4 linked regions of the Homo sapiens genome follow. The protein of the gene in region 1 purifies or fractionates together with the protein of each later gene. This does not show direct contact. Each region holds a gene or a part of one and is shown on either strand. Other genes may lie near its edges. The genes, in order: ZNF324B, TRIM71, CEP78 and RPF1.

What was found.
Region 2: the proteins of ZNF324B (region 1) and TRIM71 purify together in Homo sapiens (affinity purification with mass spectrometry; 2 studies listed by BioGRID and IntAct, with this or other methods). This does not show direct contact.
Region 3: the proteins of ZNF324B (region 1) and CEP78 purify together in Homo sapiens (affinity purification with mass spectrometry; 2 studies listed by BioGRID and IntAct, with this or other methods). This does not show direct contact.
Region 4: the proteins of ZNF324B (region 1) and RPF1 purify together in Homo sapiens (affinity purification with mass spectrometry; 2 studies listed by BioGRID and IntAct, with this or other methods). This does not show direct contact.

The regions. Positions count from the first base shown.
Region 1 is NC_000019.10:58,447,678-58,454,631, forward strand, and holds the start of ZNF324B (zinc finger protein 324B), read left to right. Parts: upstream 1-3,944; 5' UTR 3,945-4,027; exon of another isoform or gene 4,028-4,076; intron 4,077-4,118; exon of another isoform or gene 4,119-5,105; intron 5,106-5,509; exon of another isoform or gene 5,510-5,589; intron 5,590-6,018; coding exon of another isoform or gene 6,019-6,024; coding exon 6,025-6,145; intron 6,146-6,550; coding exon 6,551-6,667; intron 6,668-6,954. UniProt on the Homo sapiens protein: May be involved in transcriptional regulation.
Region 2 is NC_000003.12:32,820,981-32,828,007, reverse strand, and holds part of TRIM71 (E3 ubiquitin-protein ligase TRIM71), read right to left. Parts: intron 1-7,027.
Region 3 is NC_000009.12:78,239,059-78,246,085, forward strand, and holds part of CEP78 (centrosomal protein of 78 kDa), read left to right. Parts: intron 1-964; coding exon 965-1,137; intron 1,138-1,233; coding exon 1,234-1,306; intron 1,307-2,637; coding exon 2,638-2,741; intron 2,742-4,403; coding exon 4,404-4,578; intron 4,579-7,027. UniProt on the Homo sapiens protein: Centriole wall protein that localizes to mature centrioles and regulates centriole and cilia biogenesis. Involved in centrosome duplication: required for efficient PLK4 centrosomal localization and PLK4-induced overduplication of centrioles.
Region 4 is NC_000001.11:84,475,434-84,482,280, reverse strand, and holds the start of RPF1 (ribosome production factor 1), read right to left. Parts: upstream 3,016-6,847; 5' UTR 3,000-3,015; coding exon 2,772-2,999; intron 1,326-2,771; coding exon 1,269-1,325; intron 1-1,268.

The sequences.
Region 1 (6,954 bases):
GAGAAACATGGTGAAACCTCGTTTCTACAAAAAAAGTAAATAAAATTAGCCAGGTGATATGGTTTGGCTGTGTCCCCACCCAAATCTCATCTTGAATTGTAACTCTCATAATTCCCACACGTTGTGGGAGGGACCCAGTGGGAGATAAGTGAGTCATGGGGGCAGTTTCCCCACACTGTTCTCGTGGTAGTGAATAAGTCTCAAGAGACCTGATGGTTTTATAAGGGGTTTCCTCTTTTGCTTGGCTCTCATTTGCTCTTACCTGCCACCATGTAAGACAGGGCTTTCACCTTCTGCCATGATTGTGAGGCCTCCCAGCCACATGGAACTGTGAGTCCATTAAACCTCTTTGTCTTCATAAATTACCCAGTCTCAAGTATGTCCTTATCAGCAATGTGAAAACAGATGAATATAGTAAATTGGTAGAGTGGGGTACTGCTATAAAGATACCCGAAAATGTGGAGGCAACTTTGGAATTGGGTAACAGGCAGAGGTTGGAACAGTTTGGAAGCCTCAGAAGGAGATAGGAAAATGTGGGAATGTTTGGAACTTCCTAGAGACTTGTTGAATGGCTTTGACCAAAATGCTGATAATGATATGGGCAATGAACTCCAGGCTGAGGTAGTCTCAAATGGAGATGAAGTTGTTGGGAACTGGAGTAAAGGTGATGCTTGCTATGTTTTAGCAAAGAGACTGGTGGCATTTTGCCCCTGCTGTAGAGATTTGTGGAACTTTGGATTTGAGGGAGATGACTTAAAGTATCTGGTCCGGGTGCAGTGGCTCACGCCTGTAATCCCAGCACTTTGGGAGGCTGAGGCAGGTGGATCATGAGGTCAGGAGATCAAGACCATCCTGGCTAACATGGTGAAACCCCGTCTCTACTAAAAAAATACAAAGAAATTAGCCTGGCATGATGGCGGGTGCCTGTAGTCCCAGCTACTCAGGAGGCTGAGGCAGGAGACTGGCATGAACCTAGGAGGCGGAGCTTGCAGTGAGCCAAGATTGCAACACTGCCCTGCAGCCTGGGTGACAGAGCAAGACTCCATCTCAAAAAAAATAAAAATAAAAATAAAGTATCTGGTGGAAGAAATTTCTAAGCAGCAAAGCATTCAAGAGGTGACTTTGATATTATTAAAAGCATTCAGTTTTAAAAGGGAAATACAGCATAAAAGTTCAGAAAATTTGCAGCCTGACCATGCAACAGAAAAGAAAAACACATTTTCTGTGGAGAAATTCAAGAAATTTGCATAAGTAACCAGGAGTCAAATGTTAATCGCCCGGACAATGGGGAAAATATCTCCAGGACATGTCAGAGACCTTTGTGGCAGCCCTTCCCATCACAGGCCCAGAGGCCTAGGAGGAAAAAATGGTTTCGTGGGCTCCCCCTGCTGTGTGCAGCCTACAGACTTGGTGCCCTGCATCCCAGCTGCTTGAACTATGGCTAAAAGGAGCCAAGGTACAGCTTAGGCTGTGGCTTCAGAGGGTGCAAGCCTCAAGCCTTGGCAGCTCCCATGTGGTGTTGAGCCTGTGGGTGCACAGAACTCAAGAACTGAGGTTTGGGAACCTCCACCTAGATTTCAGAAGATGTATGGAAATGCCCAGATTTGGAGCAGGCAAAAGTTTGCTGCAGGGGCAGGGCCCTCATGGAGAACCTCTGGTAGGGCAGTGCTGAAGGGAAATGTGGGGTTGAAGACCCCACACTGAGTCCCCACTGGGGTACTGCCTAGTGGAGCTGTGAGAAGGGGGCCACCATCCTCCAGACTCCAGAATGGTAGATACAACCAACAGCTTGGACCACGCACCCGGAAAAGTCACAGACACTCAACACCAGCCCATGAAAGCAGCTGGGAGGGAGGCTGTACCCTGCAAAGCCACAGAGCTGCAGCTGCCCAAGACCATGGGAACCCACTGCTTGTATCAGTGTGACCTGGATGTGAGACATGGAGTCAGAGGAGATTATTTTGGAACTTTAAGATTCGACTGTCCTGCTGCATTTCAGACTTTCGTGGGGCCTTTAGCCCCTTTCTTTTGGCCAATTTCTCCCATTTGGAATGGGTGTATTTATCCAACGGCTGTACCCCAATTGTATCTAGGAAGTGACTAACTTGCTTTTGATTTTACAGGCTCATAGGAAGAAGGGAATTGCCTTGTCTCAGATGAGATTTTGGACTGTGGACTTTTGAGCTAATGCTGAAATAAGTAGACTTTGGGGGACTGTTGGGAAGGCACGATTGGTTCTGAAATGTGAGCACGAGATTTGGGAGGGGCGAGGAACAGAATGATATGGTTTGGCTGTGTCCCCAACCAAATCTCATTTTGAATTGTAGCTTTCATAATTCCCACATGTTGTGGAAGGGGCCCCAGTTAGAGGTAACTGAGTCATGGGGACAGTTTCCCCCATACTATTCTTGTGGTAGTGAGTAAGTCTCACGAGATCTGATGGTTTCATAAGGGGTTTCCTCTTTTGCTTGACTCTCATTTGCTCTTGCCTGCTGCCATGTAAGACGTGCCTTTCACCTTCTGTCATGATTGTGAGGCCTCTCCAGCCACGTGGAACTATGAGTCCACTAAACCTCTTTTTCTTTATAAATTACCCAGTCTCAGATATGTCTTTATCAGCAACGTGAAAACAGACTAATACACCAGGCATCGTGGCTCCTGCCTGTAGTTCCAGCTACTTGGGAGGCTGAAGTTGGAGGACTGTTTGAGCATGGGAGGCGGAGGTTGCAGTGACCCGAGTATGCACCACTGCACTCCATCCTGGGTAAGAGAGTGAGACCCTGTCTCAAAAAAAAAAAAAAAAAAGTAAAAAAAAATTGCTTGAAATGTTAATAATGCCTCTAAGCATTTGATTAAATCACAATAGTACTTAAGTGTTCTTAAATTCTTTCAAAGCAGGAAAAATTTAAATAAAAACATTCAAAAATTGTCGAGCTATCTTACACTATAGGGATCTACAAGTAGAATCAATTCTGTGGACAGTTATAGCTGACAGTAGACAGATATTTATAGATGGAGGTGGGTATAGAGGAAGACAAAATGAATTAACGTACTTGACATCTGAGAACTGTCTAAGGATCCTAAAAACAAGACCCTCACAGGGAAGCAACAAAGAGAGAATCGTTTATTCTCTGCCAACAACATGGTCAGTCTACATTGAGACTGCCCTGCCTTTTGTTGTTATGTGTCAAAGACACTTAGATTGGTCCAGAGAAAAAAGGAACAAAGCATCCATGTTGTGATGTGTGGGGCAAAGCAAGAACTAGATGGTCTAAGGACAAGCAAGGCTGGGGAATTACCTTCTGCTCGTCCAAGTTACAAGGAAAACAAGTTTTGGGCGAGCGTCCAAGAACAATCACAGAATCAAGACAAATGACAAGCGGGTAGTGTCATTACAGGCTGAGAATTCTTGGTGTAGAGGTTGAAAAACGGACCTTAAACCTTTACGGGACACTGACACACAGAGAGATCAAACCCTCGCCCAGGATGCACAGTCAGTGAGATGCAAAGCTGGGAAGGGAACCCGGAGCTCCAGGCATCTGCTCCTCCACCTACACCTGCCCTACCCGGTGCGTTTTCTCCTCCCTGCTACCTGCTGGTGTTGCCTTCTGGAACCTCCGCAGTTTCTGCTTTCACACCTGCAGGGTTTAGTCTCCAGGGCTGCTTAGGTGGGTGCCAGGAACTGGGAATCCCCAACGCGGGACAACCTGCCGGGCGACTCAACCAGTGCCACGGAGCCCTTGGAAACCCGCGGCAGCTGCGCTACTCCATTTCCAGGCGCCCAGCGCGGCGGCGCTTAGCCGTTGCCATGGAGACTGGTAATGGCCCCGCCTCCGCGCCGAAAAACAGGCAGGAACCACATAACCCAGAAGGCTGTGCGCAAGCGTCTGCGCGCGTATTGGGGCAATGTGAGCTCTGGGGGCTGGACTTCCGGCGTTGGGACTGTCACTTGGCTGCTCGCGTCAGGCCACACCGGTGGTCTGGGCTGTGGCGCGCGGGTCGGGGCCCGAGGCGGGCGGCCAGGAAGGTACGGACCACGAGCAGCCGGCCGCGCCCCCAAGCCTCGGTATCTTCGAGTATGACGTGGTCGGCCCGGGGGCGGTCGGGCCCCGGCGGGAACCACGCGTTCTCCCGCCCCGCGGAAGCCCAGGAGGCAGCGCATTGGGCATTCTGCGCCCATGACTGCCGGGCAGGCTGAGGCGCGGGGCAGCCGCGGGAGGCTGCTGGCGGGGATGGCGGTCCCGGGTGGTCCATGCCTTTCTTCCCTCCCAGTTGCGGGTTCCGCTGGCGGCGGTGGCGCTGACAAGCCCGCGCCGGGGGGGCGGGGGAGTCCCTGCTCACACAGACTGCGCCCCCACGGAGTGAGGCCGCTTCCTAGACCTCGCCTAGTCGTCTTTCCTCTCCCTGCCCTGGGGGGGTTGCGGGGGTCAGTGCAAACTCCTGCGTCCAGGGCACTGGTGAGCTCCCGACTTCCGGCAGCCAGGGGGCTGAGGTCCCGAAGGAGGCTCCGAGGGGAGAGTCCTGCGTGTGCAAAACCTGGGAGGGGAGCCGAAGCCCAGATGCTTCTGGGACTGAGCGCTCTCGATGTGGAGCTGGAGTAGAGGGGATGTGTGCGGCTGCAGTAGCAGGCGAGGGAGTGGGCTTTATCTCGAGGGCGTCGGGAGACATAGAAGTTTTGAACAGAATCAGGACATCCTCTGAGTTGGGACTTTAAAACGGTTCCACCGTTTGTTGCGTGGAGAACAGACATGCAGGGGTGTCGGCATGAAGGGAAGAACCGACTGCCACAGTCTGGGCAGCAGTGGAGGTGGGCGACCAGGTGAATTCTGGTGGATCTGCGGATGCATCAGGTGTGGGCTGTTTGAAGAACTAAGTACCCCATGTTGTTCAGCCTGAGCGCCTGGAAGAAGAGAGCTGCTGTAGATAGAAAGGAGAATTGAAAGGAAAGCAGGTTTCCTTCAGGGGAAAGATCAAGAGTCTGGGATGTCCCAGGTTGGTCATGTCACTGGACCTGACGTTGTTGGTGTCCTGGGCTGAGGACAGGGCCTATAAACTGGACTGAAGAAGGCGATGAGCAGTCAGGCGTGCGGAGTTACAGCTTGAGGGTAAAGAAAACCGGCTGGGGTGCCTGAGGCTATCAGGGGAGGAGTTCGGCAGGTGGCTGAATAGGAGAGGGTGGCAGCAATGTGGGAAAGAAATTGCGGGAGCGCTGAGATCGAGACCATCCTGGCTCACACAGTGAAACCCGGTCTCTACTAAAAATCCAAAAAAATTAGCCAGGTGTGGTGGCGGGAGGCTGAGGCAGGAGAATGGCGTGAACCCGGGAGCCGGAGCTTGCAGTGAGCCGAGATTGCCCCACTGCACTCCAGCCTGGGTGACGGAGTGAGACTCCGTCTCCAAAATAAAAATAAATAAATAAATAAATAAATAAATAAATAAATAAATAAATAAATTGAGGAGGGGGCGCCATGTGGAGGGAGGAAGGGATTGAGTTCCCCTGTGTTCACAGGTTCTTGGGGCTGCACCCCTATGACGACTGGTGGGGATCATCCAGTCCCTCAGGCTGGATGAGCAGCCTGGAAATGTCAGGCAAGCGCAGCAGGGGAAGGTCTCAGTGATGGGCATGCCTGGGGGGTCCACAGCTGGGACTTACACCCTTGCTTATTACAAAAGCAAGAAGGGCACATCTGGGGAGGGTCATGAATGGTCATGCTGAGTCACGAGTGGATATTTGGGGCTGCCCTTGGTGTGGCAGCTAAGGGCCCAGCCAGGGCTTGCTCTAGCCTGCTTGTGTAGGGGTGGCCAGTGGGGAAGTCAAGAAGCCATCTGGGGCCTGGACCAGGAGGGCAGAGGGGAGGGGTCCCAGACAGGTGAGGGAAGTGCCACCTGAAGATAATCTCGGGGTGGAACCCAAGGAAGGAGGGACACTGGGGGAGGTGACTGTTGGGATGGGGAGCTTGGTCCTGGCTCACAGCCATACCTTAGACCATGCCTACCTCCACCTCCCTGCTGTTTTAGGACCTGATGACCTTCGAGGATGTGGCCGTGTACTTCTCCCAGGAGGAGTGGGGGCTCCTGGACACAGCGCAGAGGGCCCTGTACCGCCACGTGATGCTGGAAAACTTCACACTTGTGACCTCACTTGGTAAGGCCCTGGGTGCTCCATGAAAAGTGCACTTGGTGACAATCAGGACTGCCTCTTCACTTCCCTCCTGGTTGATGAGCAGGATCAAATCTGGCCAGGGCCACGTGGAACAAGGGTCTGGTCCTGTAGACACAAAGTTTGGTTGGGTCAGCCACTCCTTGCCGCCCTGTCCAGCTGTGGCCTCTCTCATGCCTGGGCTCAGTCCCGTTGCTTTGGTGCTCTGGGCACAGTTGCTGCTCTGGGGACACATGAGCTATTCCTATGAGCCCCTTGCCCTGTGCTATCTTTAGATTCTCCCAGTTGCACAGATTACTGTCTATTTCCATGAAGCCCTGACTCCTGCTCTCTGTTGGGAGGTGGGTTGTCTTGACCTGGGGCTGGGCTCTCACCTGCTCCTCCTCACAGGACTCTCTACCTCCCGACCTCGTGTGGTCATTCAACTTGAGCGTGGCGAGGAGCCCTGGGTTCCCAGTGGAAAGGACATGACCCTGGCCAGGAACACCTACGGGAGGCTCAACTCTGGTGAGTGGGAGCTCAGGTGGGGTGAACTAAGGACCAACCTGTGGCCAAGCCCATGTCCCTGCTTTTCTGACTCTGGAAACACATCCTCCTCTCCTGCCTCCTACCTGACTCCCTTCTCTTCCATCATCAGCCTCTCCTGGAGGCTGCTGCCTTAGTAGGTGCCCTTGAAGGGAGAGCTCCAAGGGCACAGGAGCTGGGTTCACACAGAAGGGCCTACCTTCAGCTGGGCTGTGTGGCCTTGAACCCTCCACAACTAGCAGCCATTATTGATAGGTATTTATTTCGCC
Region 2 (7,027 bases), on another chromosome or scaffold:
TAAGTGCAGATTTTTTATACAACAGCATTTTAATAATTATCCCAATTAGTCCCAAAAGAGTATGAAACGACTTCCCCAAATCCACTGGCATTTCAAGAAAAACATTTTAACTGCAAAAGGTTAAGACGAGAAGAAAATGGCTGGCCAAACTTTCCAGAAGTAACAGCTACAGGATGCAGCAGCCAACAGATGTTTACAAAGGCTCTCATTCTCAGAGGCGCCTGACCTGATTGACCACTCAGGCTCCAAGGTCCATTCAAGGGCCCCTGGAATTCACAGGGTGTCAGAACCAGGAGGGTATGTCCTCAGTCTACACAACTGATCTGCACCCACTTTATTCTTTTTTGTGCCCACTGCTCTGCTTTAAAACCTATTAATGTTGACAAAATGTGCTATTCTGCAGAAGCTCTTATAGATAAATGATCACAATCAAGAATTATCCCCCCTTGCAAGGCGCGGTGGCTCACGCCTGTAATCCCAGCACTTTGGGAGGCTGAGGCGGCAGATCACCTGAGGTCAGGAGTTCGAGACCAGCCTGGCCAATATGGCAAAACCCCATCTCTACTAAAAATACAAAATTAGTCAGGCATGGTGGTGCATGCCTGTGATCCCAGCTACTCGTGAGACGAGGCAGGAGAATCGCTTGAACCCAGGAGGCAGAAGGTACAAGGAGCCGAGATCACACCATTACACTCCAGCCTAGGCAACAGAGTGAGACTCCACCCAAAAAAAAAAAAAAGAATTATCCCCCTACCCTTCATGACAAAGGACCTCATTCCCAATAATCACAACTTCAATATGCTAACATAATTACTGAAAACAGTATTTTTATTGCTAAAGACTACTACTTCTATGTGGAAAATTGTTTTTGAGTGAAATACAACTGACTGCTAATTTTTTGTGCCAACTGATAATTTATAGCTTCACTAAAAACAAACTCATAGCCCGGGCGCGGTGGCTCATGCCTGTTAATACCAGCACTTTGGGAGGCCGAGGCGGGTGGATCATGAGGTCAGGAGATCAAGACCATCCTGGCTAACACAGTGAAACCCCGTCTCTACTAAAAATACAAAAACAATTAGCCGGGCATGGTGGCAGGCACCTGTAGTCCCAGCTACTGGGAAGGCTGAGGCAGGAGGATGGCGTGAACCCAGGAGGCAGAGCTTGCAGTGAGCTGAGTTCGCACCACTGCACTCCAGCCTCAGGGACAGGACAGAGCAAGACTCCGTCTCAAAAAAACAAACAAAACACAAAACTCACCTGACCGGGTGTGGTGGCTCACACCTGTAATCCCAGCACTTTGGGAGGCCAAGGTGGGTGGACCATTTGAGGTCAGGAGTTTGAGACCAGCCTGACCAACATGGTGCCACTACACTCCAGCCTGGGTGACAGAGCTCCCTCTCAAAAAAAAAAAAAAAAAAAAAAGAACTCACCTGATGGGAATTAAAGTTCTGGTTAGGAACCATCTAGGATTAGTAGAAAATCTACAGTAAGGATGACAAAAAAAACTATTAGCCTAAGTCTAATATGAGTATCTCTAAAACTCAGGTTTGGATGGGAGTTTGTTTGTGAGACATAGTCTTGTTCTATCGCCCAGACTGGAGTGCAATAGCATGATCCTGGCCCACTGCAACCTCCGCCTCCCACGCTCAAGTGATTCTCCTGCCTCAGCCTCAGTAGCTGGGATTCGTCCGGCTAATTTTTGTATTTTGAGTAGAGATGGGGTTTCACCATGTTGGTAGGCTGGTCTCGAACTCTGGGCCTTATGTGATCTGCCCACGTCAGCCTCCCAAAGTGCTGGGATTGCAGGCGTAAGCCACCGCACCCTGCCTGGATGGGAGTTGAGTGGGATCTTCCCCCATTTCATTTCATTCTACCACCTTCAAAGCCAGTTGTAAGCAAACTGCATTTATCTACAGCATGAGGAAGGCAAGAGATGGCATGGGAGAGGCAAAGATTTACTTTGGAATATCGTTTAAGTCAAACAGTTTCAAATGTAAAGGGACACCACTAGGCCCCCTACTCCTCCCACTTTTTAGGTTGACAAGTCAGAGTCTTGTCAATCAAAACAGTCAATCTGGTTTCAGTCAACTCAGTTTGTGAGTATAGACAAAACCTCAAAAGGAGGGGAATAATTTAGTATTGAACAAGCAGGAGGTCACATCAGCTTTAGAGGAAAGATGGATCAAGCTTACTCTTGCAAGCCACAATGCTTGAAAGGTCAAGAAGAAAAGCGGTAACGGAGTAGGCTTCAATGGGTGGCATCTTGCTCCCTTAAGGCAACTGTAATTCTTTATCATTATCTTTCTCTTGCTCGCTTCCAAAATGTCAGAGATAGCAAAAACAGCCTTAGTGAGCCAGGCCTTTAACCTTTATTAGTTTTATGGGTGGGAGTGGGAGAAGGGGGGAAGCAGTATTTTGAAACTGCCTGCATAGTATAGAATTCATCTCACCCTTTTGCCTGTCAAAAATGACACTGAAATGGTCCTTTATTTGCTAAGAATGAACACAGACAAAATAAACCTTGCCCTGTGTAGAGAACTGGATGGAGAAATGGCAAACCATGTGACTTTTAGCACCAGAAATAACTCAGAGGGGGTTAAATTTTAGAGCTACAGAATTATTTAATGAAAATTTCTCTTGAACCAGAAAAATTTATAAACACGTTTTACCCTGGCAAACCACTTAAAAAAAAGCGTTTTAGCCATTTAACTTCATTGACAGCTTCCACAAGAGCTAACTCCCTTACTATATATGCACGATTATTAGTTCCTTTTTTCAGTGAAAAGACATAAAGCCCAATTATGCTCATAATTTTACATGTGAGGAGAAAGTTGCATCCATATTAAGTAGTACTTGAGGAAACTAGACATTTAAGCCTCCTGAGATCCTTCTAGAAAAGGACTACCTAAGGGCCAGGCACAGTGGCTCACACCTGAATCCCAGCACTTTGGGAGGTCGAGTTAGGCAGATCACCTTGAGGTCAGGAGCTCAAGACCAGCCTGGCCAACATGGTGAAACACCGTCTCCACTAAAAATACAAAAATTAGCCAGGCATGGTGGCACATGACTGTAGTCCCAGCTACTTGGGAGGCTGAGGCTGAAGAATTGCTTGAACCAGGGAGGCGGAGGTTGCAGTGAGCCAAGATCGCGCCACTGAACTCCAGCCTGGGTGACACAGCGAGACTCCATCTCAAGAAAAAAAGAAAAGAAAAGGACTATCTAGCCCAGCGAGGTGGCTCATGACTGAAATCCCAGCATTTTGGGAGGCCTAGGTAGGCAGGTCGCTTGACCTTGGGAGTTTGAGACCAGCCTGGGCAACATGGCGAAACGCCATCTCCACAAAAATTACAAAAATTAGCCAGGTGTGATGGCTAGAGCCTGTAGTCCCAGCTACTTGAGAGACACAGGCAGGAGGATCTCTTAAGCCTGAGAAGTCAAGGCTTTAAGGAGCTGTACAACTGCACTCCAGCCTGGGATGAGTGAGACTCAGCCTTAAGAAAAGGACTAGGGCCAGGCGCGGTGGCTCTTGCCTGTAATCAATCCCAGCCCTTTGGGAAGCCGAGGCAGGTGGATCACCTGAGGTCAGGAGTTAGAGACAAGCCTGGCCAATATGGTGAAACCCCGTCTCTACTTAAAAAAAAAAAAAAGAAAGAAAAAAAATTAGCCGGACAAGGTGACGAGCGCCTGTAATCCCCGTTACTTGGGAGGCTGAGGCAGGAGAATCACTTGAACCCGTGAGGTGGAGGTTGTAGTGAGCCAAGACTGCACCACCGCACTCCAGCCTGGATAACAAGAGTGAAACTCCATCTCAGAAAAAAACAAAAGGACTAAATAAAAGTATTAAGTAAGTAGCTATAATACAATGGGAGGGAGAACTAGATGGGAAATGGCAATTTTTACCTAATCTTCAAACACTTTTTTTTTTCTTTTTTTGAGACAAGTCTCACTGTTGCCCAGGTTGGAGTGCAGCGGCACGATCTCGGATCACTGCGGCCTCCGCCTCCCCAGTTCAAGCAATGCTCCTGCCTCAGCCTCCTGGGTAGCTGGGACTACAGGCACGCGCCACCACGCCTGGCTAATTTTTGTTGTATTTTTAGTAGAGACAGGGTTTCACCATGTTGGCCAGGATGGTCTCGATCTCTTGACCTCGTGATCCGCCCGCCTCGGCCTCCCAAAGGCGCGGTGGCTCACGCCTGACCCTCTTCAAACACTTTTAGGAAGATTTCCCTGTATCTTTTTAGATAGTCTCGCTCCGTCACCCAGGCTGGAGTGCAATGGCATGATCTCGGCTCACTGCACCCTCGGCTCACTGCAACCTCCGCCTCCTGGGTTTCCCCATTTCAAGTACAACTATTTCACTTTGAAAACAATGTCAATGATAAAGAACAAATACCGTTGTCAAATGAAGAACTGGAAGTCTAGAAAAAGTAACGTTTTTTTCCCCAAATATCTTGTCTTCCAAAATGTATATTCCTAGAATTGGAAATAAAAATCTTGTATCAAATCTATGCAATCCCCAAACCACTAAAACCACTATAGTTTATCTTTGTAAAGGAAGGAAACTGAACAAATAATCACAAAAGGTTTCCCAGACAGTGCTGATACCACAACAGCCTCCATACTACTAGCACAGTTTATGACAGGTTATGCCTTCAAGGCAACCTCATCAGCACAGGCTTGCCAAACTAGCTGTGGCCCACTTCCTGAGGGTCCATGTTGAAAAATCCATTCCTATGCACTTTAATGGAACTACCTTAAGCCCACAAAGGCTAAGCAATTAACATATCAATAACGAACATTTCCCTCCCATATATTTTTATCAAGCATTTTCTGAATTCAGTAGGCTTCCTAATGTCTACCTGCTGAACTGGATTCAAAGCAGCAACCTCTGTAATTATTTTCAAGGCAGTTAGGTTTGGTTTTCCAGCCAGTAGGTGAGATGTCTGCACTCAGAGGACATATTCACCCAGTAGTGTAGAGCAGGTTGAAAGCAGGTAACAGAAATACTAGAATACCCATTTCTGTTCACTTTCTCTCCTTGTCCTTCCTTTAAAAAAATTTTTTTTAAAAATTTGTTGAAATTAATATGAATCAATCGGATTCCAATTAAAATGCCAATTTCTTGTAGAAATTCTCAAAGTTTATCATAAATTTCACCAACTTAGTTACATCTGATCGCCTCTAAAGACGGAAAAGATAGGAAAGTGGTTCTTTAGCTATACCTACATTTCACACCCTTAAAAAGAGAATTACTTCGACATGCAGTGTAAGTGGGAAAATTTGTATTATGCTTTTAAAAATATTTTGGTATGGATTTTATAATTTATGCAAGAACATGAATATAATTTAAAATAAGCATGCATACACTGAGTATATGCAGACCTGAAAAAACTTAGACTTTGGGAACAGAGAATAATATACACTGGTGCTGAATACAGGTACAGTCCCATTTACAATATGACTTAAAATATACAAAACAAATTCACACAGCAACCGATTATTTTAGGCAGCAAACCTCCTTGTTCCAAGTGACTGAAGCCACTTTAAGTTTCCTGCCAGGAGACAGTCCCAGGAGTGCTCAATGTTCAGGGTCAAATCAAGTTGGAATTCTAGAACTTTTCTCTTCAGGAGGCATTTTAAAGCCCAACACAGGGACCGCATGGATTCTACCAACACCTGCACCCCTTTTTCCAACCAGACTCCAGAAAACGCCACCCCCAGACCTGCCTAACTGGGAACAATATTGCCATCCTCGGGTGGGGCGGGCTACAATGTTTTCCAGGTGGCAACAATGTCACCCCCACTGCCCCTCACCGCTAGTGACAGAGGCTTTCCTGGGTTCAAACCCTGCTCAACTTCCCGCCATTCACAGAATCCTGACGCCCAGCTTAGGCACACAACACACCCAGCATTTCTGCTGCCGGTGTCGCCTCCAAGGCTGCAAAGGGCTCACGTTCTATGTGCCAAAAGCAAAACAACACTAAAGGGTCACTTGTGAGCAGCTGGAGCAGCGCTCACAACTCCCTAGTTGTGAAACTCTTCCCCCAAAACTCAAGCGAAGACCCTACTCCATGACCAGAGCGGCCGTGAATACCCCAGCGGGTGCCTGCGGGGAGAAGAGCAGCCGCCGGCCAGGCCACGTCCCCAGAGCCGAGGCAGGCTCCGGGCTGGCCGGGCGGCGGCGCAGGCCCGCGGCGACTCTACCTGCGCCCGCCTCTCCCGGGACCCGCGGCACGCAGCGGGCCCGCGGCCAGCTGTTCCGGGGACGGCGACCTCGGATTCCTCGCCTTGGATTCCCCGCCCGGATGCCGGCTGGGCCACGGAGCCTGCAGGCCTTTCGGACTCTGGAGGCACAGAACTAGTGAAAAGCCCCAACTATGTTGTTGAAATAAGCCAAAATAAAAGAGTAGCAGCAAGTACGTCTCATTATTTCGTTGGAAAACCCAAAGATTTCCAGGTTATCATCATTACGGTTTAAAGCCAATTGCTCAGACGAGACACCTTACTTGCCAATCCTAAGAAGGCATTTTACAAGGGGATGCTTAAGGAAGAAAGTCCCCCTGGGCGAGAGACCCTGCAGGCTGGGGTAGGGTGTTTGGGCCTCCTTCCCAAGGTCAGGTGGCCTGAGTCACTATAAGGAAAAGGTGCTACTCTGAATTATTTAACGGAGCCTGTGGACAAGGGAAGCAACTCAGTTAAGGAGCTCATCTTAAAAATTGAGGTAGACAGTATACACATTAAAATATGTGGATTTAGGCATTCAGTGTATCGCAGTCCAGATATGGGTCAGTCTATCATCCTCCAAAAATGTCCTAAAGCTCCTTCCCAGCCAGAGAGGGATGACTTTTTAAAGGAACAATATTCTCAAACTGTTAACGAGATCAAAAGAAAAGGAATTATTTAAGCTGTAGGTGGAACCGTTTATGAACCTCACTACCTGTTAGTGCTGTCTCTCCTAACACTTTAGTCTTCTACTCAGAACACTGGTTTGTCACCTTTAATCTCAAATTTCTAGCGTTCTAAA
Region 3 (7,027 bases), on another chromosome or scaffold:
TCAAGGCTAGCCTACTAGATCTTGCCTAATATTTTGCACTGAATGTAAGAAAAATGTATTACAGACCATTCTCGTCAGATATTCTTCACTGAACCTTCTTTATCTCTTGCATCTAGTGGGTCTAGGTTGTAGATTTTAACCTCCTACATATTGCTTGTCCATCCTTAATTACATTTTGCCTGGACTATTGCAGACGCTCCTAGCTAGTTTTGCTGCCGTTGAGCTTGGTTTTTCTCAGTTCATCTGCCTACTTTGGTTCAAGTGATCTTTCAAAAAGGAAAAGACATGCTTAAAGTGGCATGCCCACGCAGGACCAGTGTGTATTGGTTGCTTGTGTTCTGCACAGAGGCACTGAAATCTCAGCTGTGTTCTGTTAAGCCTCCTGGGGTTAGTTGGTCTTGAGGAAGGGGAGCTTTTTCTCATTTCCTTTATCTCTTTGATACTCCAACAGTGAGGCACATTTTTCTAACCTGCTAGGGGTATCCTTAATGTGTCAGTGGTAGCCCTGATCCTCATCACCTGTGAGGTAAAAGTGAACTCTCCTAGGCTTGCTTCTCCCTGCCTCTTTGTAAATTTCTGACTCTTCCGGCTACGGCTCTGGGCTTTAGTCGGATCCACCTGCAGTTTTCCAGTGCCCGGCAGGTGTCAGGCTTAGATGCCTTTGCTCTCGCTGCTCCCTCTGGTTAATGCATCACCCACTCTCACCCCATGTTGTCATTCTCATCTTTCTAGATTCAGCTTCAGGATTATCTTGAAGCCATCCTTTCAGTGCAACTTCTTTGCTTCCATAAGAACCTCTATGTACATAGTTTGGTATATCCCATGTGGCTTGAGTTTACATGTGTCTGTGCTTAAGAGGACTTTAAAGGACATGGCTCATTTCTATGTCTTAGCACAGAGCAGATGTTTTTGAATGATACATTGTATGATTGAAGTCACTAACTTTCTTTTATCTTTGTTTTAGGTTCTGACATGAATAAATTTTGCAGAAGTCGTGTTCCTGCGATAAGATACAAAGATGTGACCTTCCAGTTGTGTAAAGCTCTTAAAGGCTGTTTAAGTATATCAAGTGTGCTAAAGAACCTGGAGCTAAATGGACTAATTCTGAGAGAGAGGGATTTAACTATTCTAGCAAAGGTAAGCTTTGTCTCATTTGGCTTGTAGACATTTGATAGTTGCTTTTAGAGGAAAAAAAACCTCAATAACATTTTTAACTTTTCCCCCTCATTAAAGGGATTGAATAAATCGGCTTCTTTGGTGCACCTGTCTCTTGCAAATTGTCCAATTGGAGATGGAGGTTTAGAAAGTGAGTTTAAATCTCATTTAACTCTTGTCCTATCAGGCTGGTTTCATGTTTCCCTACATGCCATGTTAATTCCTGTCTGTACCTTTTTTCTTACTACTGCCTCATATGCTTGTTCAAACCTTGGTCCAGTCTCAAGTCTACCATGAAAGCTTGGCATGCTGAATGTAATCTGAACTAACTTTACTTAAGTTTGTGTTAAACCACAGACCACACAAATATATACCATCTGGTATTCTCTGTTTTTTGTGTTTGTTCATCTTTTAGAGTTTTTCTTCAAGAAATATTTATGGGAAGGAAATAGCAAAATGTAAAGAGGCCGGGCGTGGTGGCTCACGCCTGTGATCCCAGCAATTTGGGAGGCCGACGTGGGCGGATCATGAGGTCAGGAGATTGAGACTGTCCTGGCTAACATGGTGAAACCCCATCTCTACTAAAAAAATACAAAAAAACTCACCAGGCATGGTGGCGGGTGCCTATAGTCCCAGCCACTCAGGAGGCTGAGGCAGGAGAATGGTGTGAACCTGGGAGGCAGAGGTTGCAGTGAGCCAAGATCACACCACTGCACTCTAGCCTGGGCGATAGAGCAAGACTCCGTCTCAAAAAAAAAAAAATCATCATTACTTTAAATAATTAAAACATATATACAATCAATTTTAATGCACTGTGGTATGTTCCAAAATAGGAAATATAAGCAAAGTGCTGTATAGGAGCATATAAAAGGCTGACAGACTTGGGGGGAAAGGGTTGGGATCATGGAAATAGTCACAGAAGGTGACTGTTCGTTGGGATCCTGAAGTCTTGTGTTCGTTGTGTGAAATAGTGGTCTGGAGGGGTAAGGAAACCTGCATTTCAATTTGAGGGAGCAGAGAGTTAAAAGGCCTCTGTCTTCTATTGTTCTAGTACATTAGGTGCTCTAGTATAACACCTAATAAAATTCTGGGTTTATAGTTGACACTGAATTGTTGGTTAATAACAGATTGAGGTCTGCTCTTGGAAATGAAAATAGGAAGAGTTTTATTTTTTTTATGTTTTTCTTTCAGATGTCTCAAAAAGTATATAGAACTTTACTGTGGTCTGGAGTAAGGTTGCAATATTCAGTCTATTCAATTTTGGCATCTAAATAGAATTGAACTATTGCAATAAACTGGAGTAACTCTTTGTTACTGACTTATTTTAGAATGTACCAATCAGTTGCTTAGGTAGATTGTAAATAGTGATTTTAAGAATACAACTATAAAATAGAAAAGATATAAGAAGAGCAAATAAATCAAGACTGACTAGGTTGTATATGCTCTTCATCTTATTGTATGTGGTTTTTTTTTCCATTTTAGTTATTTGTCAAGGTATAAAGAGCTCTATCACTCTTAAGACAGTCAACTTCACAGGATGTAATCTGACATGGCAGGGAGCAGATCACATGGCCAAGATCTTAAAGGTAACTTTATGTTCCAACTTTCATGAAAATGTGTTATATGATTGCCACACGTTAATATTTTGATACAAGACAGCAGTTATTTTTGTCTTTTGATACATATGGGCATTGCAGTTTTAGTTTTGTTTAAAGAATGTGACCAATTTTCAGCCTGGGGTTCTACCATTTATTAAAGGTAGTATGCTTAATCTTAGAAATAGAAGACCTAAAATATAATAATTAGATTTTTCTGTAAATACAGTTTGTAAAACAGTAATTTTAAAGGTGCCTTAACAACTTTATAGTGGTTATTACTACTGTATTTAGGATAAAATTACATAATAATGTGACATGAAGCCTTTTTAGTAATTTGATGGTGTAGATCGGGGTAGTCAAACTATGGCCTGTGGACCAAATCTAGCCTATCACCTATTTTTGTAAATAAAGTTTTGAAACATAGTCATGCCCATTTGTTTACATATTAACTATTGCTACACCCTACACTAGGAGAGTTGAGTAGTTGCAAAAGAAACTATATGACCCACAAAGCTGAAAATGTTTATTTTGGGGCCTTTACAGCGTAAGCCCACTCTCCGTGGGATAGATAATGGTTACTCATGTGGATTCTGAAGCCAGATGGCCTAGGCTAAAACCCGAGCTCTCTCCCATTTAATAACTTGTGACCATGGGCAAATTAGTTAACCGCTCTGTTCCTCAGTTTTCTTATCCATAAAATGTGTATAATAAGAAAACCTACTGTGTCTGTCATTGTTAGGATTTAATGAACTAATGTGTATAAAATAGTGCCTGGCTATCTAAGTGTTTGCTGTTATTTCCTCTTATTGCTTTTATACAGTTATTATGAATAGCAAATGACACTGACAGTTTTCATTTGACGGAGTCATAGGAGCTTTGAATCTTTTGTTTCAGAATGTAATGAGATTTTTTTTTCTCTTAAAATCAGTGTTTCCTGTTACCGAAATTTACTTTATGGATAAAGAGAAGTGATTATGTCTGTAAGATAATACCTGTGGTTAAAACTCAAACCACCAATTTCCGAAGGCATATCAACCTTGCTTTGTATATTCTAGGCCTCTAAATTTGGTGTGCATACCCTAAGAAATATGTGAGATCCCTTGGGTTAGGAGAAGAAAATATTAACCTCTATATTTTTGTATCATTTAAAAAATACCTATTGTTTCTGTTTGATTTGTAATATACATAAAATATGTATATAGAAATTCCTGTATATAGTTTATTAATAAATAACTTACATGTTAAATGTTTACTTGTGGGATGTCCAGTCAAGTGTTTAGAGACCACTGGAGGACAGAATGATATGATTTAGAGGCTCAGCAATGATAGAATTTAGAACCAGTACCTTCACTTGGCATATAAAGAAAATAAAATTCTTAGAAGTTAACTAAGTTGTCAGTTTACATAAAGCAATCAGTAACAGGTCATTAGTGGTTAGGGTCACATAGCTAGTCAGTGACAGACTAGTATCTGGGTCACTGGACTCCTTACTCAAAATCTACTATTTAATCAGTCTGTCAGATTAACCCACCTGGCATATGTACCTGGTGTGTGTGTAAAGCTCTGATGTAATCAGCTGTACTTAGTTCCTTTTAGTGTTCCTATCTCTTTATCCAAGTGTATTAATTTCATCTTATTAAATCTTTGAAGTATCAGACCATGAGAAGGCATGAAGAAACCTGGGCTGAGAGTCTTCGCTATAGGAGACCTGATCTTGACTGTATGGCTGGCTTAAGACGTATCACACTGAATTGCAACACACTTATTGGTGACCTAGGTGCATGTGCTTTTGCAGACTCTCTCAGTGAGGATTTATGGCTGAGAGGTAAGTTAAATGAACTTGTAAGGTGGAAAATATTGAATTTTTTGATATTAAATATGCTTAACTCTTGGCACAGTAATGTTGTCCGAAGGTTTTTTAAAAAGCCTCTTTTTTCTAATAGGTTTTATTTTGTTTTTAAGCCTTTATAAAAGTTATATATATTCTTTATAGAAAATACCAAGTAACAAAAAAAAAAAAAGTACATATAATCTCAATGCCTAGAGATAAACTGTTCATTTTGGTGTATACACTTTCAGTATTGTTTTTTCCTGCAGATACATTTGTGTGCTTAGAGTTACAAGAACAGAACTATAGTGCACTTACCATTTTGTAACCCTGCTTTTTTTATTTAATGATGTATCATGTAGTACTCTATTATATTGAGGCATAATAGTTTAATTCCCTACTATTTGATATTTAGGCAGTTTGTGCTTTTCCCCTGTTATAAACAACTCTGTAGTAAACTCCTTATGTATACATCTCTGTGTCCATTGAAGTTACTTTTTTTTTTTTTTTTTTTTTTTGAGACAGGGTCTTTCTCTGTTGCCCAGGCTGGAGTGCAATGGTGTAATCATACCGCGCTGTAGCCTTAAACTCCTGGCTCAAGTATCCTCCCACTATACCCTCCGAGTAGCTGGCACTACAGGTGCACACCACCATGCCAGGCTAATTTTTGTGGAGACAGGGTCTTGCTGTGTTGCCCAGGCTAGTTTCAAACTCCTGGGCCCAAACAGTTCTCTTGCCTTGGCCTCCCAAAGTGCTGGGATTCCAGGCATGAGCCACTGTGCCCAGCCTGAAGTTACTCCTGTAGGATAAATTACTAAAGTTGAGTAACTCAGTATAATGTATTTCTTAAAGACTTTTGATGCATGTCACCAAATTGCCTTTCAGAAATGCTGTGCCATATTATAGTCTCATAAATGCTGGATTGTGTCTATTTTAAAACCTTAAACTTTACAAAAATGAGAACTCCCCTGCTTTTTCTTTTTTGATGCAAATGGGATTGGTCTCTGAATTTTACAGCTTTTTTCACTCAGTCTAGCATATCTTAAATCAGTAAGTTTACATTTACCATGTCATTTTTAGTGACTCTTCAGGGTTCCATTATGTTAATATGCAATAGTACACTTGGCTTATCCGTTCCTATTAGATATATAAGCTATTTCCAGTTTTTCATTGTTATAAACAGTACTTTGATACGTGTTGTTGCCCGTGTCTCTTATAATTTCCTTCTGGTAAATTCTTAGAAGGAGAGTTGCTGTGTTAACAGAGTCTGCACATTTTAAAGGTTTTTTTAAAATGTGACCTTCGCCAATCTGATAGAAGCATAATCACATTTAATTGTTTTAGTTTATATTCATTTGATTTACTAGTGAGATTTACTGGCTATTTTTATTAATTTGGCTAGGTGGATAATTACATCCTATGCTCATTCTTCTGCAGCAAGAGTTTGTAAAGGTTTTACCATATTCTATCAGATCCATATATCTGACTTATTTCTGTGTGTCTTGTGGTGTCTTAGTCAGTTAGGGCTTCATAGAATATTCTATATTATATATAGTATATATTATATAACTCCATTATAGAAGCATATAACAGAATTATATTCTGGGTGGCTTAAAGAGAAGACATTCATTTCTCACAGTTCTGGAGTCCGAGAAGCCCAAGATCCAGATGCCAGTAGATAGGTGTCAGGTGAGGGCATTCTCCCTAGCTTATGGAAGGCTTTTATATCCTTAAATGGTGGCGAGAGAGAACTCTAGTCTCTTTTTTTTCTTGTAAGGACACTAATCCCATGATGGCTCCACTCTCAAGACCTCAACTAAACCTAATTACCTCTCAAAGGCCCCAATTCCTAATACTACTACCCTGTTGTGGATTAGGGTTTCAATATACATTTTTGGGGAATACAGACATGTAGTCCATAAAATGAGATTCTGAAAGACTTCAGTTATTTTAATGTAATGGTATACACGTGCTTTTGCTCTGATGTAATCTTTTTTTATGCCTGTACTTTTGTGATAATCCTTTTGAGTTGAAATGAGTAGATTGTTCAGCCTCAGTATTACTAGTATTCATGAGCATTTGTTTAGTTCTTTGACCTTTTACTTGAGAGAGAGTTCTTGACCATTATTTTTTCATGATAGGTTTTTAGTATATAATCTCTATAATCTCTATTCACACATTCTTTGGATTCATTATTTCTATCTCCTTAGAGTTCTTTCTTTGTCATTTTTATTCTAAAACTAACAGTTTACATTTTTGTATTTTCTTTTCACTTTTTTAATGTAATTTTTTGAGAGTCACTTGGAATTTGAATTTGAATTTGATGATGAATCTAGTGCAATTTCTGAGCTCCACCCAGTTTTTGCCTGTGATGTTTACACTGCCACTAGCATCCTTGTTAATTATGAACAAATATTCATTCTGTGATGTTTTATGTAGAGTTATT
Region 4 (6,847 bases), on another chromosome or scaffold:
ACCAAGAAATGGTGTAAATGAATTGCTAAGAAGTAGAACACAGAATTGTAAGAGTACATTAAAACTAATTCAAAATATATGTACACTAGCAGAGCTATGAAGAAAATACAAACTGAAACTAGCATTTATTACTCTATGAAACAAATATTACATTTTAAGCATTTTTTAAAGGAGGCAATTTTAAGAAGTTATCTTTCATCTCAAAAAACAAGAATGGTGGTGTTTTCAAATGGTGATCATAACATTAATTTGCTGTAATAGACTGATTACAAAAGAATTAAAAAGAGACTAACATGCTTGACATACTAGGATACTGCAGGTCAAAACAGTCTACTATTGACAATTTTCTATGGTTTAACCTAATACTATTCAAAGAATGTATGAAATAGTAGAGTGTTTAGTTTGTATACTGTCTTTACATTTTTTTCCCTTCCTCAAACACCCTTATTTGGTAACTTACTTGAATGGGAGGCGGAGACATGAATGTTTTCAAAATTTTGCAAAAATAAATCACAACCTAGGAGTAACTATAAATACACTGAAAATAAAAATAACTTAGCTATGCAATAATGTATGAGCATTTAGTAGTTTAAAAAATTTTTTCAATAAAGATTTCACTTCTTATGAGTACCACAAATACAGCCAAATTCTTTCTTGATGCATTATCTGCTCTTTTCTCTGCCATAATCCTCACCGTCCTCCCACTCCCCATTCTCACTTTTCACAGGTTCATATCCTCTGTACCAGCTCTAAAGCTTAACACACCCTTATCACCCTACTCCAGAAGAGGATCTGTCCTGCCTTTCCCCAGCCTTGCCTGACCAAAAATCTTTGCTTCACATGACAAGAGCCAAGCTCCAGGCCTAACCTGGGGGAGCTTCCCCATTCCCAAAGTCAGGGAGAGGTGTTGACCTCTGAAACACAAAGTTATATGCAAAATACCACCACTGTGTTACCGTATAGGTACACAAACATACACAGTAAAGGTAAAAGAAGTGCATGGAAAAAATAATCAAAAATTTCACGAGTGGTTATCTTCGGAGGGAAAAGCAATTATGAAGCAGACGAGGGGCTTCCAACATTCTTTGCTAATGCATTATTTCTTAAGCTGGGTAAATGATACAAAGAGGTTTATTATATTACTTTTGTATTTCTTCATACATCTGAAATACGTAATAATAAATTTTAAAAGAAAGTAATTCAACTTAAATATCAGGAGGGATTCCCTAATATAAGATAGAAAGCAAACAGCTAAAAATTTTATTTACCTTATCGCCAAGAGCCTCTCTTTCTTTTTTAAGTTTTTTCTTAGCTGCCAACTTTTCCTAAAGGGTTAAAAAAAAAGAGAACAATACTGAGAAACAACCAGTTATATCACAAACACATACTGAAACTACAAATTACTAATGCTATGAATACTCGAACTGGGCGGTCTTTGTAATCTATTGAAATAAGCATCTGGACGTGGAGTTTTCTACCTAAATTACTGTAAGCCAAATGAGCTGGCCAATCAATAAGATTTCTTTAACAAAGACCTGCTCCTTTAAAAAAATCTAAACTGGCAAGTTTGAACATTTAAAATTTGAGTAGCTTAACCTTTTTCCATAAAGCCTCAAATTAATTAAAGTATGTGATGGTTTCCACTGTGTTTTGTTTTGCCTAACTGGTGGCATCCTAAAGACGACCATGGTTATGCTGCTTGCTTCTCTTGAAAAGCACTAAAAATAGGAATGGGAGCTGAGTTTTCAGGTTGTTTTCCATAAAACCATCACCAGTTATTCACATATTTTATAATCAAAATATACTTCTAAAATTTAGTAAGAGCTTGCAAGGTGGCTTAAGATTATCTGTATTTGTATTGTCAATCTATATATTCTTCTGGAGATTTCTAGATAGAATGCTTGACAAAATAAAAAATATTCTTTTTTCCCCAGCACCTACTGATCCTCAATCCACCAGGTTTCAGATTAGAAATCATAGCTCCAATAAGTCTTCCAGGACATCCCTCCCCAATACGTGCATACCAGAATGAGTTAAACGCCCCTTGTATGTATTGAAACAGCACCTTGACACTGAACATGAGTAAGAACCAGTCCCGGGCCTCAGAAGGGCCAGTAAGAGGAGGCAGACACATAATAATAATATTGTGTGAACTTCTACGATGTGCAAGAATAAGCAAACGTTTTCTTCCAATTGCAATTTAACCAGAAATGAGCACTGCGACCTTGACAAGTCGTTTAAACCTCTTTACGTTTCAGTTTGTTTACCTACCAGAAACGTATAAGGATAAAGCTGAAAAGAACAAATACAATTACCAGAAACTTTACAGTACTAATTTCGGTAAGGAGCTCCTGCAGGAATCAGAGAAGCAGTATTTTGGATTTATTACGTATTGCCTCCATTTCAGATTCTGCAAATTAACCAACGCTACCTAGACGGACCAAAGGGCTGAGACTTTTGCCTTCTGGGCCAGGAGGGCGTAGTTTTCACTACTAAGCCAACTGGCCTTACAGCTTTCCTTGTGAATCTAGCGTCCCAGGAAAGAGCCTATCAAGATAATCTTCCACCTTGACGCTCAGGCAAAAGGCTGAACCTAGAGTCTCCAAACTAGGGCGAGGGGACCAGAACACGTGGGCCGCGACGCCACCCTTCCCACGGAGCCACAGAGAACACTTTTGAGACCAGCAGACAACCACAGATGTGCGCCCCGCGACCGCCCTAAGCGTCAGGAACAACGCGCAAGCGCCCGGCAGCCCCCGCCTCTCGCGTACCTTCCGCTGCTGCTGTTTCCACCGCGTGAACATTAAGTGTCGCCGCTGTTTGTTTTTAATCTCCGAAATGCTAAAGCCTGGCGGAAAGGCAGCCGCTTTCGGGGGTTGGACCCCGTTTTCCGTCGCCCCATCCCCAGCGCCTGCAGCCTCCTGAAGTTCTTCGGCAGCGGCTTTCCGTTTTAGACTTTTCTTCCCGCTGCTGCTGCTCTTATCCCCGGCTTTCGCCATGGTCTTGGCTCCTTTGCTTCCGTACGGAAACGGAAATAGCCTTCTCCTGTGACCCCCTTCCTTAACCTTTTACTTCCGGGGTCGCAAAGTTTTTGACGCTAGATGTGTTTTGTGAGTTTTAGCCATTCAAGAAAATAGTAAAGCTGAGGCTTGAGGAAACTTTAGGCAGTTTGCCCAGCTGTATAAAGAGTGAGATGATGAGTTTGGGCACTCCTTGCGCATCTATGTGCCCAGCCCTCAAAATAATGGAACAACAACAAAAACCGTGCCTGGATTAGTTTACGTTTTACTTGAGGGAAACCTAAAATGAGCATACAAATAAATTATGGTGAGCTACAGAGTAAGACATGGTATGGAAAAAAAATAGAACAGGATAAAAGAAGATGAAGAGACATTCATCTTTTTGAGACGGAGCCTTGCTTTAATGCCCAGGCTGGAGTGCAGTGGCACGATCTCCGATCACTGCAAACTCCTCCTCCTGAGTAGCTGGGACTACAAACACGTGCCACCATGCCCGGCTAATTTTTGTATTTTTGCAGAGATGGAGTTTCACCATGTTGGCCAGGCTGGTCTTGTACTCTTGATTTCAGGTGATCTGTCCGCCCTGGACTCCCAAAGTACGTTGCAATTTTAAATAGGATTCTCAGAGTAGGCTTCATTGAAAACGTTACATTGAGCCAAGGTTTGAAGGAGGTAATGGGCTAAACTAGTTATCTGAGGGAAGAGCTGTTAATCTGAGAAAAGCTGGTTATCAAGGAGAAAAGCTGTCCTGGCAAAGCAAACAGCCAGCTCCAATGCTCCTAGTCAGTAGCAAGCCAGGAAAGGCAAGAAGTGTTGAGATTGGACAGGTGGTGTAGAGTTTTGTAAGGACTTTGGCTTTTATTTTATGTGAGATGAAGATCTCTTATAGAATTTTGAGGAAAAGAATGGTATGATCTTAACATCTTAAAAGTATCAGGCTGGTGCAGTGGCCCATGCCTGTAATTTTAGCACTTTGGGAGGCCAAGGCAGGAGGATTGCTTGAGCCTGGGAGTTCAAGACCAGCTTTGGCAACACTGTGAGACCCCATGTCTACAAAAAGTAAAAAAATATATATATCTGTTTGGGCATGGTGTACATCTGTGGTCCCAGCTACTCAGGAGGCTGAGGCAGTAGGATCCATTGAGCCTGGAAGGCTAGGTTGCAATGAGCCATGTTGGTGCCACTGCATTCCAGCCTGGGTGAGAGGGTGAGACCCTCTCAAAAAAATAAATAAAAATAAAGTAAAAGCGTCATTCAGAATCTTCTTTTGAGAAGAGCCTATGCAGGGGCAGGGTGTGTGGAAGAAGGGAAGAAATGATAGTGGCCTGAACCAGGGTAAGTCTTGTGTAGGTGGTTGAGAAGTGATTCCTCTGGAAGGTAAAGTTACTGATGGAACTGAAGGGAGGACATGAAAGAGTCAAGGATGACTCCAAGACTTTCGACCTGAGTGATTCAAAGGATGGAGTTACCATCAGGTGAAATGCGGGAAAGTTCAGATGGAACAAATCTGAGAGGTAAGATCAAGATTTCAGTTTTGGAAATGTTAAGTTTGAGATACTTTTTAGTGATCTGATTGGTGGTGTCAACTAGTCAGTTGGGATGTATGATTCTGCAGCAGGACAGAGAGGTGTGGGCTAAAGATCAAACTTTGGAAGTAATTGGCACATAGGTAGTATTTCAAACCATTAGAATGAGTGTAGATAGAAAACTGAAAAAAGAAGATCAAGGACTGAACCCTGGAGGAGTCCTGCATGAAGAGATGGAAAGAAAAGGAGGACCCAGCAAAGGAGAAGGAGAAGAGAAAATCAAGAGAGTAGAATGTCATGGAAGGCAAGTGAAGAAAGTGTTTTCCTAGTGGTTAAATTTGCTGTATTCTTCATTCTAATTTTATGAAAATGCTTTCCAAATAGCAACAAGAAATCCCTTTTGATTTACTGTTAGGAGTCAGTTTTCCAGAATCTGCCTTAATTTCAAATTTTATGTACCAATATCTATATTTCGTGTTTTGAGAATCCAATATGTTTTTGTCCACATTTCATTTTTCACCCATTCAAATTCTATTTAACAACAGCAGGATATTAAAAGCATCAAAACTGTGTCTTCCAGAACACAAGCTCCATCCAAACCTGCTATTAGATCACAAATTGAAAATTGTTGTTAAAAAACTTAAAATCATTATGTTTAGATCCAAAATTGGATTTAAGTTATATAATACAAAAAAAGGAAAAAAATAGCATTGAGTTTTAAAATCACTGACATATAGATTTGGCTGCAGTAAATCATAAAATTTATCTGGACATGGTGGCTCATGCCTGTAATCCCAGCACTTTGGGAGGCTGAGGTGGGTGGATCACTTGAGGTCAGGAGTTCGAGACCAGCCTGGCCAACATGGTGAAACCCCATCTCTACTAAAAATAGAAAAATTCGCTGGATGTGGTGACAGTTGCCTGTAATCCCAACTACTCAGGAGGCTGAGACAGGAGAATTGCTTGAACCTGGGAGGCGGAGGTTGCAGTGAGCTGAGATGGTGCCATTGTACTCCAGCCTGGGTGACAGAGTGAGACTCCATCTCAAAAAACAAAACAAAACAAAAAAAACCCCAAAACCATAAAATTTCATATATAGTTTATTTAAAGGGGGGTAATCAAGTCAAAAAGGAAGAGTAGTCCTGGGGCTGTGGCTCATGCCTGTAATCCCAACACTTTGATAGGCCAAGGTGGGAGAATAGCTTAAGCCCAGGAATTCAAGGTTGCAGTGAGCTGTGATTGCATCACTGCACTCCAGCCTGGGTGACAGAAGGACCCTGTCTTAAAAATAAATAAATAAATAAATAAATAAATAAATAAATAAATAAAAGAACAAGAGGAGGGGGAGAAGAAGAAGAAGGGGAATAAGTAAATCTCCATCCTGGAAATACAGACTGAGAAAATATTTTGAAAGTCTCTTCTAACTGTAACGTTTTATCTCCCTACATATAATATTTCCTTTTCTCATAAGAATACAAAATAGTTTTGAAATAGATTTAGATAACAGTGTTAAATTTATTTAGAAGCACCATACAAATGAGATCATTAACTCCTTAACTTAGACTTCCTTTTTTTTTCTTCATGCCGTATTTATAATAACAATTGTATGAGTTGAATGAAAGGATTTCTATAATCAGAATAAGTCCTTATTCTTAAGTCACAAAAACATTGATTAATTCAACAAATATGTATTAAATGCTACTCTGTAAATGAATAGGGTGGGTTGTGTTCAGATCTTGGCTCAATCACTTAGATGCTATAAAATCTCAGTTAAATCATAAAATGTCTGTGGGTCTCAATTTGTCTGTAAACTGGGGCTAATTATACTGCCACATAGGATGTATAGAGAGGAGTAAAGATGTATATTAAAGAACCAGACACACTCAATAAATGCTAGCTAGCTATTTTTACCATTTATTGGTGTCAGAGACTGTTCTAACTAGTGTGGAAGAAAAAGGCATCATGTTTGCCATTAAGTAGTGTACAATTTTAGAAGAAGATGAAACACAAGAATAGAGGTCACTGTAGAGTGCTTTACGAGGTTCATTTCAGCCGTTCACTTTCTCTCACCAATTCTTTCATTGCCCATTATTTTCCAGGCCCACTTCCAATAGAGTATATGTTATTTTAAAATAAAGCACTTACTTTTAATACTTAATACAATTTTTGCCTATTTGTTTTGATTCTGACATTTGGGGCACGCTGGAATACAACTCTTAGGCACCAGGTGAGTTCAGTGATCCAAATCAAGATTCTCTTCAGAAAATTTGACCTATTATTTTACAGTATGACTTAAGCTTT